Linked DNA regions of Homo sapiens: region 1 is linked to region 2. A link means that fine-mapping ties the variant in region 2 to the expression of a gene that starts in the linked region. Tissue or cell type: aorta. Region 2 holds a variant in brackets; the other region holds the start of a gene. All regions are shown on one strand. Distances are from middle to middle.

Evidence for each region. PIP is the estimated chance that this variant, and not a neighbour inherited with it, causes the effect.
Region 1: it holds the start of LGR6, and the variant in region 2 is fine-mapped to the expression of LGR6 in aorta (GTEx, PIP above 0.99).

Annotation. Positions count from the first base shown.
Region 1 is chr1:202,192,581-202,195,203 of GRCh38, reverse strand. LGR6 (leucine rich repeat containing G protein-coupled receptor 6) reads right to left here and starts at 1,405. Exons shown (of 18, transcript NM_001017403.2): 1 at 1,003-1,405. The coding sequence starts at 1,214. RefSeq lists enhancers at 2,272-2,321, 2,016-2,623.
Region 2 is chr1:202,222,221-202,224,720 of GRCh38, reverse strand. The region is part of intron 1 of LGR6 (leucine rich repeat containing G protein-coupled receptor 6); the gene reads right to left. Among named protein-coding and RNA genes, the nearest start is that of LGR6, 30 kb to the right of the region's middle. RefSeq lists a silencer at 446-740. The variant G/A (reference allele first, on the strand shown) is at 1,426.

The DNA of each region.
Region 1 (2,623 bases), 30 kb after region 2:
CCTAGCCCTCAGCAGAAGGCCCCACCAGGCTTTCCCACCTGCTCCCAGCTCCTCTGAGGAAGTTGATAGAGCCTGCAGAGCTGGGCTGGAGGAGGTTTCCTTGCCCCAGAGCGGGGCTGGGGGTGCAGGTGGGTGGCCTGGAATGTGCTCTCTCACCCTCCTCCTGCCCAGGTGGTGAGCAGCCAGAGCCCCCAGCCCTCCAGCTCTGAGGGGAAGCTCCCATGAGCCAGACAGACAGGACAGCTGCCCCCAGTAGGGTCCCCTTCACGCGCCATCTCACCCCAACTCAGACGCTAAAAATGGTTCTCTGGTTTTCAGCCTCGGCGCCTGCCCACAAATTAGTGTCTCCAACACAGCCTCTTGGGACATGACTTTAGGGAGGCCCCTGGGGGAGCCAGGAGGCCCCAGTGAAGGGAGATGGTGCTGGCAGAGTCCCTTTCTGAGGAGACAAGAGTGGATAAGGCCCCCCTCCCAGCTTCTAGGAAACCCGCCCCCCCCGCCCCCACGAAGGCCACCCAGCCTCAGTGTGACAGCCCTGTTGTCCTCACCATGGCAGAAGAACAGACATTATTTCCACCCTACTGGGGCACGCTCCCCTCACCTCCACCTCCAGTTCTGTCAGCTTTACCCTCAGCCACCATCCCGGGCACTGCTCTGCTAGAAGAGAATGCAGCAACAGGAGATGGAGCAGCCAGCCCCGCGCCCTCCCGCTCAGGGTCCAGAACCCACCTCGCCAAGCCTGGGCTCCCATAGTCAGCCCACAAGCACGGAGGCCAATGGGGAAGCCAAGTCAGGGAAGCCCGGTCTCCCTGCTCGCCTGGTATTTAGTCTCAGACTCTTCTCCCCTCCCCAGTCCCGCAACGGTCAACTTGGAAGGGGGCAAACCCTCTCCGGGATGCCCATGCCCCAGGGCACCAAGCAAGCAGGTGCCCTGCTGAGGCCGGGACTGGGCGCTAGCCAGCAGCCCGCAGGACCAGGCGGGGACAGGCGGGCAGTACTCACAGGTAAGCCGTCAGGGGGTCCAGGTCCCCCGGAACGGCGGACAGCCCGAGCTCAGAGCAGTCGGCAGACAGCATGATGCCGTCCTCCTGGCAGTGGCAGGGGGCCGGGCAGGCGGTGGGCCCCGGGCCGGGCTGGGGGGCGCCGCCGGCCCTCCGGGAAGCGCACAGCGCGGCGCAAAGCCATAGCGCCCGGAGCCCCGGCGGGCTGGGCATCTCGGCGGTCGGGCTACTGGGGCACCTGGCGGCCGGGCGCGGACGCACGGCGCGATGGCCGCAGCTGCTTCCTCCCGGTCCCGGCGGGCTGCACCGTCGGTGGGGACCGCCCCAGGGGCTCTATTGGGCGGCGGCGGCGGCGGTGGGAGCGCCGGGACGGTGCAGTCAGAGAGGGGCAGGCATTGTTGAGTGATCTTCGTTATTCAGTTTCACAGGCTGGGCTTGGCAAGGGAGGGAGACCCAGCCGGAGGAGGAGTCAAGGAAACTTTCTACACTGCGGCTCGCTCCTCTTCCCTCCTTCCTTCGGAGCTGGCAGGAATTTCATCCAGGAAAGAAAAAAAAAAAAGGAAGAAAGCAAAGAAACCCAAGCGAGCAAAGCTCAGCCCGTCAGAGACCTGCATTTGTTTGGATAGGGTGTCCCAGGGCCTTGGCCGCAGGGCTGGGGACCCTCTTGCCTTTGGGGACAGCCACGAGGTCACATGGGACCCAGAGGAGGTCTCTGAAAGAGGCCTTGGGGCTCCCATTGCCCCTCATGCCTCCACCACGTTTCACACTGCAGGAAACTGAGACCCAAGAGGCAAAATGATTTGTTCAAGGTGACACAGCTGATGGGACATCCCCAGAGCTGGAACTCGTCCACCCTCCCTGGCCTGTCTGCTAGGACAGGAGAGAGGGGAGTGAGGGGCTACCCTGGAAGAGGCCAGGCTGCGGAGGGTTCCACTGCAGGCTGGGATGACCCGACGGTGGGCAACCAGGAGCAGTCTCCTCACTGAGAGGCCGGGCCTTGACTCCAAAGAAACGGGTGTGGAGTTACACCCGCTGAGTGCACCCTGGGTGGAAATGCACTCCTGCAGCCTCTGTCAGGTTTACGGCCTGGGGACCACCTTGATCCCTGCTCCCAGGACCTCGGGAGTCTGAGGGACTGTGGGCAGCTCAGCTGGTTGTCAGAGCCCACCTCAAAGTAAGCGGATTGGTGCCACCTGGAGGCCGGGTGCTGCACCTGCAGCTCAGCCACCCTGAGGCTGGAATCCCACCAAGTGGCTGACCTGGGCCGGCCCCAGAGCCCTGGAGAGCAAAGGGCATGGTGGTTAAAACTGAGGTCAATCCCTGTTCTCTCCTTAGACCATAGTGAGCTGGCTGTGCTTCCTTCATGCAGCCTCTTGCTCTCTCTGGTCTCTCCCATGCTGAGCCAAGCCCCCGCGCAGAGCTAGAGCAGGCTGTGGGCCCCCCTCCTTCCTTTTTTTGCCCTATCTCCCCATGGTCCAGCCAGAGGGTATACTAGAAACCTGGGACCTCAGAGGCATCCAGGATTTCTTCCACCCTGTCTTTCCACATGCCAGGATCCTCTCATCAACACCTCTCCACTCTCCCAATAACCTCCCAGGGCTAGAGGGGCTGCATAGCTGGAC
Region 2 (2,500 bases):
CCTGTCAGATCAGCCGAGGCAGCAAAAGATTCTCATAGGAGTGTGAACCCTACTGTGAACTGCGCATGCGAGGGGTCTAGGTTGCATGCTCCTTATGAGACTCTAACTAATGCCTGATGATCTGAGGTGGAACAGTTTCATCCCGAAACCATCCCCCACACTCCACCCCTGTCCGTGGAAAAAAATTATCTTCCATGAAACTGGTCCCTGGTGCCAAATAGGTTAGGGACCACTGTCTTAGTCCACCTGGAAGACATGACACCTTGGCACATCACAGAACTGGCACACCACTAGATTCCCAGGTGGGGTAAGGATCCCAGTCCCTCTGCGGATCCACAGCCTCAATCATCTTAAGCTCATATTATCTGACAGACCCTGTGGGTGGTTTCAGTGTCACTGTCCTCTTAGAGGCCCCGCACACAAAATAATCACAATAATTACCCTGGCATTTACTGCAGGTCCACTCTGTGTCAGACACCGGCTAATCTTTACCCAAACAACCTCCTTCCATTCTCACAATAACCCCAAATTAGCTTCCATCATTATCTCCATTTTACACTCAAGAAAACAGAGAGAAAGGAGCACTGAGCTTCGAAGTCAAAAGGCCCTGAGGTCACATCTCTCCTCTGCAGTTACCTATCAGACGTTGGGCCCTTGACCTCTGGGCCCCTAGTTGACCTCATCTATAAAAATAGGGCAGCACCAAGCTGGTAGGGTGCTTGTAAAGATTAAGTGAGCTAATGCTTACAGACTGCCTAATAAATAGTATGGACAAGGTACATATTTGCTTTTCTCCTCTTGCCTTTCCCTCGGGGTCCTGTGGGCAAGTGTCCCAGCCCCACAGGCCGGTGGGAGAGGGGCTGGTGCCTTTTCACAGGCCTGTGGGGCTGGGACACTTGCCCACAGGACACTGAGGGAAAGATGGAAGGAGGAAAGTAGTAGAGAGGAGTTGGTACCTTCCTCTGTGGGTCCTACCCTGTGTTGGCATCTTCTTCACAGTTTGTGCCTGGATGAGCAACAGTGTGTGAGACTGTGTGTGTGTGCCTGACACATTTGCATTCCATCCTACTTCAAACTCCTAATGCCTGATTCTCGTCTCTGCCTGCCCCTTCCCTGAGGGGGTACAGAGGTGGGCTCAGACCAGACCACCACAAGCTGGGCACTGCCCCCAAGCCTTCTTGAGGCTTTCTCCTTTCCCTAGACATGCACTGTTGCCCTCAAACCTCAGTGTCTGCATTTCCCCCCAAGAAATGCGTGTGCTTTCTGTGTGCCCAGAAAGGCAGGCTGGGAACAGCCTGGAGAGCGTGTGCTTGGGAGTCCTGTTCCAATCTATAAAAAGACTGTTTAGTCTCAAATGTTTTATCTTTGATAAAGCCTGGGCTCTGGACTCCATGTCCTCCAAGGAAGGAAGACATTCCGTGCAGG[G/A]TAGAACCAAGGAACTGGCATGCTGCACCCAGCGCTGCTTCTCATCTACCATTCCCTCCCTGCTCCCCTGCAGAACACCTCTGGGCTTGCCGGTCTAGAAATGGGATCCGCAGAAGCTGTAGGTGGTGTGCTGTGGCCATAGTTTCAGGTGGGAGAGAGGCAGAACCCAGAGAGTTTGTTGATGGATTTTTTTTTCCCCAGAGTTTCACTGTTGTCACCCAGGCTGGAGTACAGTGGTGTGATCTCGGCTCACTGCAACCTTCGCCTCCGGGGCTCAAGTGATTCTCCTGCCTCAGCCTCCTGAGTAGCTGGGATTATGGGCACCTGCCACCACGCCTGGCTATTTTTGTATTTTTAGTAGAAATGGGGTTCATGATGTTGGCCAGGCTGGTCTCGAACTCCTGACCTCAAGTGATCCTCCTGCCTTGGCCTCCCAAAGTGCTGGGATTACAGGAGAGAGCCACTGCGCCCAGCCTGTGGATGGATTTTAAGCCAGGGTTTGGTCCTCAGGATGTTTTCAGGCCCCACTAGTCTTGGATTGTGGCTGAAATGCGAAGGTGCAGGAGCACACTGGACAGTGTCAGGGGAACGTAGGGTGGCACCCACAGAAACCCAAGCGCAGAAGCTGGGCCAGATCGGACTCCTCCCCCTGGTGTCCCACCCCTGGCTCATTCTCAGTGAGGCAGGAGGCTCGAGGTGCCGAAAAAAAATGATTACCTCTAAATATTTACCCTGTGCATTTCTGGATGTGTCTCGACAGGAACGCAGCGGGAGTTCAAGGAGCACTCAGGGCGTGTGACTCAGGCCTCATCACTCAGCTGTCCCCCCAGGGGCCGGGCCGCAGAGCCTCTGATGTCCCTCCATGGCCCCCACCCCACCCACTCCCTCTGCCCCACCACCCTGACTAGCGGCCTCATTGTTCTCCCCTGCGGAGGAGGGGGCCTGAACCCCTCCACCCGCCCCCACATCCTGCCCCAAAACAACACAAAGCCCAGCTGCAGTGCTCAGTAAAGGGGGTGGGGTGGGGCAAGGAGGGTGAATTTCAACTGTTCAGGGGTGGAGGGAGCCCCATTCA